Regions from separate parts of the Homo sapiens genome. Here region 1 is linked to region 2. A link means that fine-mapping ties the variant in region 2 to the expression of a gene that starts in the linked region. Tissue or cell type: monocytes after LPS. Region 2 holds a variant in brackets; the other region holds the start of a gene. All regions are shown on one strand. Distances are between the middles of the regions.

What was found. PIP is the estimated chance that this variant, and not a neighbour inherited with it, causes the effect.
Region 1: it holds the start of NHERF1, and the variant in region 2 is fine-mapped to the expression of NHERF1 in monocytes after LPS (Quach 2016, PIP 0.95).

What each region holds. Positions count from the first base shown.
Region 1 is chr17:74,743,715-74,751,814 of GRCh38, forward strand. It overlaps NHERF1 (NHERF family PDZ scaffold protein 1), which reads left to right and starts at 4,914. Exons shown (of 6, transcript NM_004252.5): 1 at 4,914-5,573. The coding sequence starts at 5,133. RAB37 (RAB37, member RAS oncogene family) reads left to right here. Exons shown (of 9, transcript NM_001006638.3): 6 at 594-659; 7 at 1,159-1,215; 8 at 1,294-1,370; 9 at 1,592-3,621. The coding sequence ends at 1,697. It overlaps SLC9A3R1-AS1 (SLC9A3R1 antisense RNA 1), which reads right to left and starts at 6,153. Exons shown (of 3, transcript NR_187307.1): 1 at 5,349-6,153; 2 at 4,859-5,213; 3 at 1,886-3,829. It overlaps MIR3615 (microRNA 3615), which reads left to right and starts at 4,899; the gene lies at 4,899-4,985. RefSeq lists enhancers at 3,468-4,063, 5,352-5,977, 7,469-8,010 and a silencer at 4,458-5,147.
Region 2 is chr17:74,786,818-74,794,917 of GRCh38, forward strand. SLC38A12 (solute carrier family 38 member 12) reads left to right here. Exons shown (of 10, transcript NM_017728.4): 4 at 1,972-2,053; 5 at 3,383-3,479; 6 at 4,139-4,219. Among named protein-coding and RNA genes, the nearest start is that of SLC38A12, 14 kb to the left of the region's middle. The variant G/T (reference allele first, on the strand shown) is at 3,130.

The DNA of each region.
Region 1 (8,100 bases), 43 kb before region 2:
AGTCAGACAGAGTGAGTGGTTGTATCCTCACAACCAAACTATTATAGAGACAAAAATTTGATAAATTCAAGCACCAATTTTGTTCACGACATTGTATAGGTTTCATGAATCCCCTGACCTCAAGGACAGTTTGCTGATAAGCAAACTAGGAGAATAAAACGTTTATATAGAAAGAGGAAAATCCATGGCACTCATACTCCTACCTCCAACCCCATGCTCATGGCAGACATCACTAATCAATCACAGTACTTTTGATCACTGAAACCCTTATGTGGTCTTAGAATCTTTAACAGGACACTCCAAGAAATCACTGCTGACAGCCAACTGATTTGTGAGATAAGGTCTCCATGCATCTGGATCTTCCATAGAACTGATAGTTGCACAGCATAAAATGGTGAGGGTGGGGCCATTGTGGGTTGAGCCACCAAGGAAGGCCATCCAGGCCTGGATGGGCCAGAACAAAGGTACAGATGAGAGAACGCACAGGGTATCGTGTTCAAGGTAGTGAGTAACTGAGGATAGTCAAACGGAGCAGAAGAAGAAAGGGGCAGCAGGAGGAAGAGAATGCCAGTCTCGCACGCCCTCTCCCACAGGCCTGGCTCACTGAGATTCATGAGTATGCCCAGAGGGACGTGGTGATCATGCTGCTAGGCAACAAGGTGAGTGGCTCCGGGGCAGGGTCAGCCCAGCCCTGCACTTCCTCAGCCCTAGCCGGCCCCATAACCACCCAAGAACAGTTATCTAGGCATCCTTCCTGAAAAGGACTCTGCAGCCTCCAGCTCAGGGGTCAGACATATCTGGAGGCTTCTGCCCATCCCATCTGCCCCTTCCAGGGAAAGTCCAAGTTGTTGCCTGAGAAATCAAGGGGTGCCCAGTTCTCAGCCCCCATTAGAGCAGAGTGAACAGGGTCCCAGGTCAGGGGCTAAGAGTGCAAAGGGTTAGCCCCAACTGCTGTCCTATTCCAAGACCCTTTACCAAAGGTGAGATCCCAGAGCTGGGAGCTACACTGGGCAGAAACCCTGGCCCCAGGCCAATCACACCTGCCTGCAGTCCCTTGGGCCACCAGCAGAGGGCAGGCAACGCCTGCTTCTGGGGCAAAATATGGGCCCGCTGGGGCGGAGGCCTCCTTCCCCAGAGTGACCCATTTGGGCTTGACAGGCGGATATGAGCAGCGAAAGAGTGATCCGTTCCGAAGACGGAGAGACCTTGGCCAGGGTAAGTGATTGTCTGTGGGACAGGGTGAAGGGTGGGGGCAACCCGACGCTGGCCCTGAGGACACTCTCTCCCGGGCAGGAGTACGGTGTTCCCTTCCTGGAGACCAGCGCCAAGACTGGCATGAATGTGGAGTTAGCCTTTCTGGCCATCGCCAAGTGAGAGCTGGGCAGGGAAGGGAAGTGTGCGGGGCAGGGCGGCACACTCCAGGAATCCAGTAGGGCCCGGCCCCTGGCCCAGCCCCTGGACACACCTGCATTCTGCAGGCTGAGGTCCATTTGCTCTGGGAGCACTGGGCCACTGGGAGAGGGGAGGGGGCGGCTCAGCTCCTCACCCCAGCCCAGCCCAGCCCAGCCCAGCCCATTGTCTCTTCTTCAAGGGAACTGAAATACCGGGCCGGGCATCAGGCGGATGAGCCCAGCTTCCAGATCCGAGACTATGTAGAGTCCCAGAAGAAGCGCTCCAGCTGCTGCTCCTTCATGTGAATCCCAGGGGGCAGAGAGGAGGCTCTGGAGGCACACAGGATGCAGCCTTCCCCCTCCCAGGCCTGGCTTATTCCAAGAGGCTGAGCCAATGGGGAGAAAGATGGAGGACTCACTGCACAGCCGCTTCCTAGCAGGGAGCTATACTCCAACTCCTACTTGAGTTCCTGCGGTCTCCCCGCATCCACAGGGAGGGTAAAACACTTAGCTTTTATTTTAATAGTACATAATTTAATACCAAAAAAGGCGCCTGGATCCCCAAAAAACCGAGGCTGGGAGCTAGTGGCCCTTTTGCTTTCTAGGACTTGGGGGGCCGGCCCTCCCTCCTAAGCATAACAAAGGTGGTGTTGCTCCAGCTCAGCCCCAGGGGACACAGATGCACTTTGGGGGTGAGGGCAGGTAATGACTCCATCGCACCCTCAGTTCAGCTGGACAGAGGCTCAGGTGACCCCAGCCTTCACTGTCTCCCGCTCTCCAGGAGCTTATCTTCGCCCCATCTCCCAAATAAGTGGGCCCTTGTGCTGTGAGGAAGACCAAAGCCTCAGGGAAGATAAGAGATATGGAGATGGGAGGGGGAGGACAAGGGGCAGAGAGTAGGGTCTAGCTGGCTATCTCTGGCCTTACTAACACCCCCCTGGAGGCATGCCCCTTTTCTCCAGCACACAAGCACATTGGGGCACCTGGAAATATTGGTTCCAGGCTCCTGTTCTCTGGACTTCAGATCCTGGGGGAGCCCCTCCCCCCCCTGAATCCCTGGCTTAGCTACCTTCCTGCCTGTGCACCTAAAAACCTCAGGTCAGAACTAGGAAAAGAGTTTTGTTTTTATTTTTTTGAAATGGAGTCTCGTTCTGTCGCCCAGGCTGAGGTGCAGTAGTGCAATCTCCGCTCACTACAACCTCCACTCCCTGGGGCTCAAGCGATCCTCCCACCTCAGCCGCCGAAGTAGCTGGGACTATAGGTGTGTACCATCACACCTGGCTAATTTTTGTATTTTTTGTAGACACAGGGTTTCGCCATGTTGCCCAGGCTGGTCTTGAATTCCTGAGCTCAAGCAACCTGCCGGCCTCGGCCTCCCAAAGTACTGGGATTACACGCAGAAGGCACCATGCCCAGGCTAGATGTGTCTTATCCCAATCCTTTGGCAGGCATGCAGCTCCACAGGCGATTTCTTCAAGCAGCTGAAGTGTTTAGCCCTCCTGGGTTAAGAGCCAGATAAGGAGAAATCCCTTTCCTAGGTTTGGAATGTGTTGTGAAAAAAAAGAGAAATCCCTGGCTCCTGGAGCTGGTGGGAGACAAGATTAAGCAAACCTCCCCTGACATGTATCCCTTTGACCCCAAGCTCTGCCTCCTCCCTGACCACCCATGCCCTTTCCTTTAACTTCTCAAACAGATACCAGGGCCTAAACTGCTTTACCTCCCCTCCTACTGAGTCAGGTTAGGTGGTGGGAGGTCACCCATTTCCGAGTTAAACCAATGCAATATGAGTAAAACAAAGTCATGTGGGTATGTCTGGGGTAGAGAGAGGGGTAGCAAGTTCATGTGTCCTCCTTGGTCACATATCTCCCAAAGCTCCGATCCCTGCCATGGGAAGTGGACAGGAAACATGAGGTCATGACCTGCAGGCATCTTTACTGCAGCTCTGCCGGCCTGGAGGGGGAGAGGGGGAGGAAGAAGTATGCGCTGCACATTTCTGAGGCTACTGCATTTGCTTTCAAGGCAGAAATCTTGCTCTGAGCAGTCAGCGGCTCCAGTTTGGGCCCGATAAGGAAGTTCTCCGTGGCCTCCCTCAGGCAGAGCAGGGAGGAGGCTGACATTGCCAGTCTCTTCTGGGGCCCAAGGCAGGTTGCAGGAGATCCAATCCCATAGACAGCTCTGGGCCTCTTGCATTTGAGTTTTTCAGAATTAAACTGCAGTATTTTGGAAAGCACATCCTGTCCACTGTTTCTTTGAAGTGAGTGGGGGGGGGGGGTCTTGTTGAAGGAATTGTCATTCACTGCCAAAATCATTCCATCCTCCTTCCTCAGTGTCTGTCCTCAGATGGTCAGCTCCCCGCTCAACAGACTGTCTCCCGCCTCTGTGACCAGCCTCTCTTTGGCAAGAGGGAGCTAGAAGGCTTTACAGTCCTAATCATTTTTCTGTTGGAAAAAAAAAAAAAAAACCAAGGCTCCTTTCCCTGTGGCGTGTACCCAGAGGTTGATTACCTGAGTCTGTCCTGCCTCTCCCCACCCCACCTCCCTAGCCAAACGCTGCTGCCAAAGCCCACGCTATTGCCCTAGATGGCCTGTCTTCAGCGGGCTGCCCCTCGAGGTCCCAGGCTCTCCGCGGAGCCCTCACCTTCCCAGCAGGGATCAGAACCTGCACTCCTCTATGCGAGTCCTGGGACAGCACAAAGTGGATTAGGGTTAGGGTTCCCACAAACGGAAAAATGTTATTCAAACAACTCTGTAGGGTCCGAGGAGGCCCTCCGTCTTAATTCTCGAGACTGACCGGCCCTCGCTGCCCCGAGCGGGAGCAGTTGCCCCGGCAACAGCCGCTCCCTCTCAACTGGAGCTGCACCCAGGCTTTGGCTAAAGGCTGTTAAAACGTTGGCCAGGTGCGGTGGCTCACGTCTGTAATCCCAGGGCGGATCACCTGAGGTCAGGAGTTTGAAACCATCCTGGCCAACATGGCGAAATTTCGTCTCTACTAAAAATACAAAAATTAGCGGGGCGTGGTGGTGCGCGCCTGTAACCCCAGCTGCTCGGGAGGCTGAGGCAGGGGAATCGCTTGAACCCGGGAGGCGGAGGTTGCAGTGATCCGAGATCGCGCCACGGCAGTCCAGCCTGGGCGACAGAGCGAGACTCCGTCTCAAAAAAAAAAAAAAAAGTTAGGGTCCTTTACCCGAGGGCCGGCTTTCCTCACTCCCCGCCACAGGTAGGGGAAACCAGGCCGGAGCCGGCGGGCCCACCCGCCCAGAACCGGGAATTCGGCGAGCCCCGCCCCTGCCACCCCAGCGCCGGCCGCTCGGTAACAAACACTTCCACTTCCTGAGCGCTAGTCTTCGCCCGCCGCGGGGCGCCGCGCCGAGCGCAGGCCCCGCCCCGCGCGTTCCCAATGGCCGGCGCCGTTCACCCGGCCGGAGCGCCCAGGCCTGCAGCCCCCTATTGGCCCGCGGAGGTCCCCACCCTCAGCGCGGCCCCGCCCCCGGGGTAAGGAGCCGGGGCGGACTCTGGGACGCTCAGACGCCGCGCGGGGCGGGGATTGGTCTGTGGTCCTCTCTCGGCTCCTCGCGGCTCGCGGCGGCCGACGGTTCCTGGGACACCTGCTTGCTTGGCCCGTCCGGCGGCTCAGGGCTTCTCTGCTGCGCTCCCGGTTCGCTGGACGGGAAGAAGGGCTGGGCCGTCCCGTCCCGTCCCCATCGGAACCCCAAGTCGCGCCGCTGACCCGTCGCAGGGCGAGATGAGCGCGGACGCAGCGGCCGGGGCGCCCCTGCCCCGGCTCTGCTGCCTGGAGAAGGGTCCGAACGGCTACGGCTTCCACCTGCACGGGGAGAAGGGCAAGTTGGGCCAGTACATCCGGCTGGTGGAGCCCGGCTCGCCGGCCGAGAAGGCGGGGCTGCTGGCGGGGGACCGGCTGGTGGAGGTGAACGGCGAAAACGTGGAGAAGGAGACCCACCAGCAGGTGGTGAGCCGCATCCGCGCCGCACTCAACGCCGTGCGCCTGCTGGTGGTCGACCCCGAGACGGACGAGCAGCTGCAGAAGCTCGGCGTCCAGGTCCGAGAGGAGCTGCTGCGCGCCCAGGAAGCGCCGGGGCAGGCCGAGCCGCCGGCCGCCGCCGAGGTGCAGGGGGCTGGCAACGAAAATGAGCCTCGCGAGGCCGACAAGAGCCACCCGGAGCAGGTAAGCGGGGCCCAAGCCGCGCAGGCTGGCATGGAGTGGGAGGAGGATCCGGAGAGACCCAGGTGCCCCGGCCGTCCAGCCCCGCGCCCGCCGTCGTTTTTCTGAAACTCGAGCTGCGAGGGGGAGACCGCTTCCGCCCGCCGACCAGGCGCCCTGACACATCCTAGGCAGGCCTGGGGCTGCGTCCCGCGACCTCCTCTCCTTCCCAGGCTGTGCTGGGAGCTTGAGCGCCTTTGCCGCCTGCACCTCTTGTTCCCTGGCCTTTGGGAGGGCGGCGCAGGGGAACCCAGCCCCCTTCCCTCGGGTCTGTGGGTGTCTGCTCCCGTTCCTCGGAATCCCCCAATCCTGCTCCTTCCCTGGTGCCCTCTCCTCGTTCACCCCAGTCCGCAGATGGGCCGGGGAGAAAGGGCTCTCCGCCCCAGAGGTGCCAGCTTCGCCCGCCACTCCTACTTCAAAAGCTAGAGGAATAGCATTACTCCTCCTGTGTGGAGCCCCGGCGCGAGGAGGCCCTCTCCGCAGCCCGCCGGTGTGTGTCCTGAACTTCAGTCCTGCTGGACTTCATCCTCCCGGAGTCCTGTGTGACTTCTAAGGGAGAGGAAGCCCCACCATCTCAGGGCGGTGTGGGGGTTGCCTGGCAGGGAGGAGGAGCCAAGGCATCTCGGAGTGGTGGTTCTGCCACCTCAGAGGATTTACGATTCTCAGGAATGTGAAGAGTAAGCGCCTAGAACTGTATCTGGGAGGGAAGGGGAAAGACCTTGGAAGAAGAAAAAGATGGCCATGGGGAGGAGAGAGAGCTCCTGGGGCTCACGGCCCTGTGTGCGCCAGCGGAGCTCACGGTGAGCCGGTGGTCTTGCCCTGGCCTTGCCATGGTCACTCTGGTGCCCACACAGCCAGCAGGCCGGTTGCTTTTTGCCCATGTTTGGTGTTTGCCCATGGGATCCCAGTTTGGATCAGCTGCAAGAGGGGCAGCTGGCAAAATAGGAGTTGTGCTGAGCCTCCTGTCCCCAGAGAGTGGAGTGGTGCATTGTGTAGGGCAGGGCGTGAGCCTCCCAGGACCCCTTCAGCTTGCACCACCAGCTCTCCCTGGTGGCAGTGTCTGATGGGAGTGTCCGTGGGGCTACGAGGAGCCTCCTGGACAGAGAAAGGGCACAGTTCGGCATTAAGGTAGAAGGCAAAGCCCTAGAGGATCAACTGGTTTGGTGGAAGTGAGGTCACCAGAAGCCCTGTCCAGCCAGAGCTGGGTGCTGGGAATGCCAGGGCCACCAGGCTCCCACTTCCTGCCCCTGCCAAGCTGGCATTGGCAAGGGGAGGGGGAAGGGATCTGAGCACCCGGAGCAAGGAGGTTGATGCCAGGGAGTTGGGGCCGATGATCTCCAGTCCCAGGCAGAAATCCAGTGTGAACTTTGTGCTGAGTCCATCGATCGATTTGACATTCTTTTTTTTTTTTTTTTTTGGACTTTGGCACCCACACAAATACCCACCCACCCCCACCCCCCACAAGTTGCAGTCTCGTTCAGCTCCTCCCTTTGCCCTTTTGGTTATGCTGCTGGGTGCCAGAGGGCCTGGGAGGCGAACGTGGAGGCCTGGCATAGCACACGTGCGCAAAGGCAGCAGCTTTGAGCTTCCTGGGTGAGCACAGACTCAGATTCCTGCATGTTTTGGAGGGACACCTACATTTGTGTGTACTTTGTTAGGCCAGGAGATGAGAGGAGAGCCACCAGCAAATCCTGGGGACACCATCACCAGCCAAGTCCCAGGACTTCTGAGTTCTGGTTCTCCCATCTGTGAGATGGAGGCATTGGGCGATGTGATGCCTGCCTTCTCTAGAATTATAGAAATGACGTGAAGCACTTGAGCCCCTTACTAAATGCTGAACTGCACTCCTTCATGCCTGGCGTTTGAATCCCAGCTCCTCTAAACTGACTCCTAGTCAACACCATTGAGTCCTTCTAGCAGAAAATCCTCTCCTCTCAATCCTGTGTGTTGAGCATACAGACACCCATGTGGTTATTAGAAAAAATGTTAACAGACATTGTAAGAGTTCGTTTTTCTAAAACACACCCGTTTCCTACATAAAGCATCAAATGGAGGTTTGCCAATTCGTTTTAGTCTGAATTTGTGTGCAAGGTGGGGCTGTTCCCTTGTCTTCATTAGCCCTCCACTTACTAAGTGATGATATCAGTGGAAAAGTGTGGCGCAGAGAGTGGTTGGCTGGGTGGCCTCTGGCTGGGAAGACCAGCTGTGTCCAGAACCACTCAGGGCAGAGGCTGAGGGGTGCCTGTAACACTGGCCATCCCCGCTGGGGAGTCTAGGCCTAAGGAGGTGGAAGTGGCTCTCCAGCTCTGCCCACCGGCTTTGCTTTGTGGATGGCCTTCCCCGCCTGCCCCGTGGGGAGAGAGGAGCAGCAAGACCCGCCCTGCTGTTCCCCTGCTTAAAGCCCTCCTCCCCCCATTCACCACCAGTCACAGGATGAGGCCTAAACCCTTGAGTCTGGGTTCAGAGTGCCGGCCGGGCAGAGCCGAGCCAG
Region 2 (8,100 bases):
GCAGCCAAGAGCTCTAGAAGTCCTTGTCCTTACATGACTCCGCTGTCCCCTTTAAAGGACCTTCAGCACAGGCAGCCATCTAATGGGAAGTGATCATTCTGGGCTCCCAGGCAGGGGGTACCACACCCCGCTCCTTGCTCAACCCATTTGTGTTTGAACGTGATCGATGAGTTGGCCTTGCGCAACCATGAAAAGTCTCTTTATGCCTTAATTAAGATTGATTTTAATTTCACGTCCAAAAAGAAGGGTAAATCCAAAGCCCTTAAAATGGTCACTTAGGCAAGATAATGAGAAACCTTTCTAGGAGGTGCTGAGGCGATTGGAATGGGGGTTTCAGAGCTGGCTGCTCCCCCAGAGTGGGAGTGAGTGTGGGTTTAACTGGTGTGGGGCCAAGTGACCCCTCTGCCTCCTGCCACCTGACGTCAGGGTGAGCAGTCAGCCCCCCAACCCTTGTCAACACTCAGGGAGAGGCAGGGGTGAGTCTGCTGGCAGAGTTGTCCTGGCCTCAAGAAAGCAGGAGATGGGCCGGGCGCGGTGGCTCACACCTGTAATCCCAGCACTTTGGGAGGCCGAGGCAGGTGGATCATGAGGTCAGGAGATCGAGACCATCCTGGCTAACAAGGTGAAACCCCGTCTCTACTAAAAATACAAAAAATTAGCCGGGCGCGGTGGCGGGTGCCTGTAGTCCCAGCTACTCGGGAGGCTGAGGCAGGAGAATGGCGTGAACCCGGGAAGCGGAGCTTGCAGTGAGCCGAGATTGCGCCACTGCAGTCCGCAGTCCGGCCTGGGCGACAGAGCGAGACTCCGTCTCAAAAAAAAAAAAAAAGAAAGCAGGAGATGAATGTTCGTCCCATGCTGTTCCACGGCAGAGATGGATTCATACCTCAGGTTTTATTAGCAGGAAGGCAGCCCACTTCTGTATCCTCCGTTAACAAAAGCATTCATGCATTCCAGCTGTCATCTAGGTCTCTCAAGTATCCTTTTTTTTTTTTTTGAGACAGAATCTCGCTCTGTCACCCAGGCTGGAGTGCAGTGGCACGATCTCGGCTCACTGCAACTTCTGCCTCCCGGATTCAAGCAATTCTCCTGCCTCAGCCTCCCAAGTAGCTGGGATTACAGGCATGTGCCACCATGCCCAGCTAATTTTTTTGTATTTTTAGTACAGACGAAGTTTCACCATTTTGGCCAGGCTGGTCTTGAACTCCTGACCTTGTGATCCACCCACCTCAACCTCCCAAAGTGCTGGGTTTACAGGCATGAGCCACCGCCCCTGGCCTCAAGTTTCTTTAAGAGGAAAAGAAAAGATGATTTTTCCAATCTAGTCTGACTTCTTGGCAAGCGTCTAATGCCACCTCCCAATCTCCCTTTTGAATTGGTCCGTAGAAGTGCAAACTTATTTTAATATTAGCCAGATTATTTGGAAAGTAAAAAGTACTGCCAAAGAAAAAAGGGATGGATTCCGGAGCCAAGTACCCATTTCCAATTATCCATGCCTGCGCTCCTTCCGTGAGTGTATGTAATTGGGAGGTGACCACTCGCCTGTGTCCTTGCAAGGTTGACGTGAAAGCTGCCTGCTGTCCTTCCAGAGGCTGGGGGGCCCTTTGTGAACCAGCCTCCCCTCACTGAGAGCGTCCTCTGATGTCTGCCCCCAACAGCCCCTCCTGGGTGTGAGCACGGCTTGTCCCAGTATCACGTCTGCCCCCAGCTCCCTCTCTCCTTTGGTTATTTTCCCTCCCATCACTTAGTTCACACCTCTCTCTCTCGTGCACCGGAAATACGTTCTCACTATAGACAGCAACGTCAAAGCATGCACACCTTTTTACCAAGTAAAGCCCATCTCTAGGGAACAGCTCTCAGAAAAGAGAATGGTCTGGGCTGGTGGGTCTGGTCGGTTCTTACAATGGTGTTTTCCTTCTCTCTCTGTCTCCTCCAACCTGTCCGCCTTTGGCGCTGGGCACTCGGCCCCCTCAGCTTCGTGACCACCACCTTTGTGATAGAGGCCATGGCTGCAGCCAACGCGCAGCTCCACTGGAAGAGGATGGAGAACCTCAAGGTGTGTGTGTTGCCCTCGTCTCCGGGCCATGCCTCTGTTCCGTCAGGTACCCAGCAGGCGGTCTCAGCAGCCCATTCTTTTCCTCTCAGTGCATGGCGGGCTCTGTCCACGGCACTGCTCCTGGACCCCAGTCCCAGAGCTGAAGCTTAATAGCCACCTAAATCTTAAAGCACAAATGGAGCCTCTGCCACTTTCCCGTCTCAGCCTCAGGCCCTCCTACCCACACCCGCACCCAGCTCAGCTGTTTGAAATCTTTGTACCCAGGAACTGTGTTGTCACTTCTTCCCGAGTGCGTCTCTGCCACCTCTAATGGGGCAGCATAGCTGTGCTGAGAGCTTCCTAAAGATACAGATACCCTGCAGAAGGAAAGAACACAGGGGCCGGTGGGGGGGCTCACACCTGTAATCCCAGCACTTTGGGAGGCCAAGGCGGGCAGATCACTTGAAGTCAGGAGTTCAAGATCAGCCTGGCCAACATGGTGAAACCTCATCTCTACTAAAAATGCAAAAATTAGCCTGGCATGATGATGTGTGCCTGTAATCGCAGCTACTCAGGAGGCTGAGGCACAAGAATTGCGTGAATCGGGGAGGTGAAGGTTGCAGTGAGCTGAGATTGTGCCACTGCACTCCATCCTGGGCAACAGACTGAGATAACATGAAGTGGCAAGCATTTCAAAAAAAAAAAAAAAAAAGAGGCCGGGCACAGTGGCTCATGCCTGCAATCCCAGCACTTTGGGAGGCCGAGGTGGGTGGATCACCTGAGGTCAGGAGTTCAAGACCAGCCTGACTAACATGGTGAAACCCCATCTCTACTAAAAATACAAAATTAGCCGGCCGTGGTGGCAAGTGCCTGTAATCTCAGCTACTCGGGAGGCTGAGGCAGGAGAATCACTTGAACCTGGGAGGCAGAGGTTGCAGTGAGTTGAGATCACACCATTGCACTCCAGCCCAGGCAACAAGAGCAAAACTTCGTCTCAAAAAAAAAAAAAAAAAAAAAAGGAAGCAGGTTTGCCATTGTCCTAGGGCTTTTCTGTAGAGTTCCATGCTCTTTTTTTTTCCTTTCTCTCTTTCTTTTTT[G/T]TTTTTTTGTTTTTTTGTTTTTTTGAGACAGGGTCTTCGCTCTGTCACCCAGGCTGGAGTGCAGTGTTGCAATCACGGCTCACTGCAGCCTCGATCTCCTGGGCTCAGGTGATCCTCCCATCTCAGCCTCCCAGGTAGCTAGGACTACAGGCACATGACACCACACCTGGCTAACATTCTGTACTTTTTTGATGTGCTCCTTTCTTTTCCCTTGTTTTCCTCCCTCCTCCTCGTCCATCCTACTGGCTCCCAGGAGGAGGAAGATGACGACTCCTCCACAGCCTCAGACAGCGATGTTCTCATCCGGGACAACTACGAGCGGGCAGAGAAGCGGCCCATCCTGTCTGTGCGTAAGTCTTGGGGTTCTCGCGGGCCCGCACTTCCCTCCGGGCCACAGGGTTCCCTTTCTTCATGGAGAGGGCCCTGGAGAGGCTCCCCGCAGATTCTGGCATTTCCTGCCCCTGGGTTCTGAGGCAGGCCCTGTGGTAGACTCAAAAGAGCACAGGGTTTCAGTCCTGGGCACAGGCCTGGCCCCTGCTGGCTTGGCCACTACTCAGATTTGCAGCTTGGTAAGTTCCTTGACCTGTGCACCTCAGTTTCCCCCCATACCCCTTCCTGTTACTGAGATGATTAAATGCCTGGTTCCTTGCCTGGTGCACCCTGGAAGCTCAAGTAGATGTCGTTCTGTGGCATCTCTTCTTCCTCCTGCCTTGTGCCCTCATGTTCATACATGCCCCTGCCTTGCTGTCTCCTCCCTGGTCGGCTGGGTTAGGCTCTGACGCCTGCTCTCCCTTTCACCCCAGCAGGAGCATCTCTGAATTCCCTTAAAAAAAAAAAAAAAAAAAAGACTGTGTTAAACCATGTCAAGCAGGAAACATTAGGAAAAGTTTTCTCGAGTTTGGACACTTGGGGATTTCATGGTTTAGATAATTCAGTGAGGTCCTCACCACCCTCTGAAGCTCTCCACGTGAAGAACCACTTCCTCTTCCTTGTTCTTTTGGCTCTGCAGAGAGACGTGGATCTCCCAACCCGTTTGAAATCACAGACCGGGTGGAAATGGGACAAATGGCCTCCATGTTCTTCAATAAAGGTAGAAGTTCTTTTGGGGGTGGGGTGTGGGGAAACGGGGAGCTGGTGCTTCCCTGCAGGCCTGCACCCTTGTAATGAGGGCTCCACCCTGACAGCCAGACCATGGGGCAGAGCAGGTGGTAGAGCTGCTCCCTCAGCACCTGAGAAGCCACCTTGCTGACCTGTTTTCCTGGATTCCTCCCTGTCTGCGGGCATTAAAAACAAAGAGGCCGCTTCTCTAGCGGAAGTCAGGAACCCCAGGCAGCTACTCCAGCCAGGGTCAGGAACCCCAGGCAGCTACTCCAGTGAGGGTCAGGAACCCCAGGCAGCTACTCCAGCGGAGGTCAGGAACCCCAGGCAGCTACTCCAGTGAGGTTCAGGAACCCCAGGCAGCTACTCCAGTGAGGGTCAGGAACCCCAGGCAGCTACTCCAGTGGAGGTCAGGAACCTGAGGCAGCTACAAAATAAGCTTTTTCCTTTTCCTGCAAAGGAAGTTGATGGAGGCCGGTTGATGGTTTTGCACCTCCTGCTTGATTGCCTCTGACCTTGCCCTCTTCTGGCCGATTCTGTCTAGAATAACACCTTCTGACAGCGCTAGAATCTGCTATGCGCACGCCTGGGCGTGGCTTCCCAGTGGCCGGCAGAGGGCGCTAGGAGCCCACACCCAGGCTTGCTGAGTGAGACCGGAGCCCTGAAGTGTGCTGGTGAACCTGCTCCTTCCTGGGATCTGGCTGCAACCATAAGGGAGCCACCCAACTCTGGGGTTGAGTTGTTGGGTGTGCCAGCGACATCTTATATCTCCATGGCAAATCTGGTTCTTTTGGAAGATGAGCTATTTAAGAGTTTAGTGGGCCGGGCACGGTGGCTAACTCCTGTAATCCCAGCACTTTGGGAGGCCGAGGCAGGCGGCTCACGAGGTGAGGAGATCGAGACCATCCTGGCTAACACGGTGAAACCCTGTCTCTACTAAAAATACAAAAAATTAGCCGGGCATGGTGGCAGGCGCCTGTAGTCCCAGCTACTCGGGAGGCTGAGGCAGGAGAATGGCATGAATCCTGGAGGCGGAGCTTGCAGTGAGCCAAGATCGCGCCACTGCACTCCAGCCTGGGCTACAGAGCGAGACTCCGTCTCAAAAAAAAAAAAAAGAATTTAATGGCCAGGCATGGTGGCTTATGCCTATAATCCCAGCACTTTGGGAGGCCGAGGCAGGCGGATCACTTGAGACCAGGAGTTGGAGACCAGCCTGGCCAACATGGTGAAACCCCATCTCAAGTAAAAATATGAAAATTAGCTGGGCGTGGTGGTGCACACCTGTGGTCCCAGCTACTCCAGAGGCTGAAGCACAAGAATCACTTGAACCTGGGAGGCGGAGGTTGCAGTGAGCCGAGATCACACCACTGCCCTCCAGTCTGGGCTGCAGAGTAGGACCTTGTCTCAAAAAAAAAAGAAAACCAGAAAAAAGAGTTTAGTTTTTAATGCCCAGACCTGTTTATTTCCATTTCATTGAGAGTCAGTCACATTCTCAGTTCATCCTTCCCCTTGCAACTGTCTTCGAAGATTTTCTGCCCCTTTGTCAAAGCCCCGTTTGTCGAGTGGGCTGCCCTACCAGTTCTTTCTAGTCTTAAATGTGGCTGCACTTAACTTAGAGCCGGGGGGACTGTAGGAACTAGAATCTCTTTGACTGCTTTTTAGGACGTTAAGCATTTAGGCAGGGCGATGTGATTATCAGCCAAAGGCCGCCCTAGGGCCTGGTTCACCCTCCCTGCTGGACCGGCCTCACAGAGGGATTTCAGAATTCAGCAAAACCAACTGGTCAGGTTCAGCCCGCATCTGTGCTTCTCCTTTGTTCCATTTCCATCCCTCCCGTCTCACCAGCCTGAGCAAGCATAAGCGTTTCCTCCTGGCAGCAACGCAAAGTCCCCTTCCAAATGCAAGCTTTAAAATAAAGTGCACATTGGAAGGAAGACGCATGCTTTTAAACCTCCTTTCTCATTTTCATGTTGTGCAGTCTGCCCTGATTTCTTTAAGAATTCTAGCAAACAGCAGTTTTGCCTTTTTTGCCCCCCACTACAGACTAGACTCTTAATTTGCCCAAATCTAATGGAAAATAAAGACATTGTCTGAGACCAGCCTCACACTTAAAGGGAGTCTCCTCTACCCTGGAGTTTCTCAAGCTCAGTCCTGTTGATGTTTGGGCTGGGGAATTCCTCCTTGTGGGCCTGTTCTGTGTGTGGTAGGGTGCTGAGCAGCATCCCTAGCCTCTGCCTGCTGGTTGCCAGTAGCACCTCCTACTTATGACAGTCAAAACTGTCCTCAGACATTGTCACATGTTCCCAGCAGGGTCTGGGAGGCAAAATCACCCCAGCTGAAAACCTCCGCTGTGCTCCATTCCTGATTCACAGACTGCCAGATTGTCATCTTCACCCTTGGTGGGGCTGCCTCCTCTATAGGAGGCTCCCTTAGGGTCCCAGCTCATTTCTTATAATCAGAAATGCGGGCCTAGCCATTGATGTCTTCTCAGGAAGTTCATTGATCCCTTATTTTGTGTCTAGTAATGAAGTTTATTGACCAGGGAGGGCCAATGGCAGTTTATAAACAGAGCTGATGCCAGAGACCATTGGCAGGTGGAGGAAAGGCTGGGAGTGGGGCGGGGGACAATGCGTCCCCTCAGAGCAGAAAACAAGCTGGAGTGCAGGCTGTACCTGGAGCCTGGGCCTGAGTGACAGGCCAACCCCAGAGGCCACTAAGCTTGGACGTCAGGCTATCTCTGACATGTCAGGGAAGGACATGCCATATTCAAAAAGTGAGTGCCGAGGCCTCTTGGGTCCCCTTGAGGATCACGTTTTCTTAGTCTTTTCCCCCCCAGGCTCCTAGGAACAGAGCTGACCTCACATGGCCCAGGAATAACATGTCCTAGGCTTTCCGTTGGGTACCCTGCAGGCTCTTCTGAGCCACCAGGATTAAAAGGGAACTGTCACTTCATTTTTCTTTATGTTCTCAGAGAAGCCAGCAGCTTGAGACCAGTGACATCAAAAACGTGAGCCTCAGTCTGAGCAAGGGTGGAGACTGGTTGTCTGAGCAGTAACCCTTAGGTCATAGGGCCCTGCCACTCTTTTCAGAGCCCTTGCACCTGGCCTTTCTAGCTGGAATCATTTATGGAAGATGGCCCAGGTGGAATTCTTCTCACCCTTACGGGTTTGGAGACGTTCATGGACTTACTGGGGTCCTGAAACAAGTCTGATGGAATTAGGACTAGAGCCCTGTGTTCCCAACTTCTCGTTCAGCCTCCTGCTGGAGTGAGAGGGGACAAACGTCACCTCTGCAGCAGAAGTGTCAGTATCACACACCATCCAGAGTCAGCATTGTCCCTTGGGAGTGCTTCCCGTAAGAAGGAAAGGGGGCCTGTCTTGAGCACCATCTCCCCAGCACACCAGGCCACCGTGTGCTTGGGATCAGTCAGATTCAGAATGAGACAGTTGGCCTTTGGAAATCCAGGGCTTTTTACCCTTTGGATCCCAGCTTCAGAGAGCTGGGCTATTTTCCATCAACTTCTCTTTGCTTCAACTCTTTAGTAGCAATCTCTTGTCTTAGAGCCCGGTGTTGGCTGACACCAGAGGGGGCCCCAGCCCAGACGCACCTGGGGTTCAGGCTCCTGACTCGGGACATCTCTCCTCCCTCCTCCCACCCCAGCCATGCCAAGACTCACACTCACCGTGCACCTGTCTGGCTTCAAAATCTCTCTGATCCTCCCAGCCTCGTTGAGTCCTCTCAGGTGAAAGTCATGAGCCGATCTGTCTCTTGTCAGCATCACAGTGTAGCCAGCCAGAAAAAGAAATAGGACTTTGGGGTCATTTTCCCACTTTTTGTAGAAAGTAAACAGCTCAGAGAACTGAAAGCTATGGG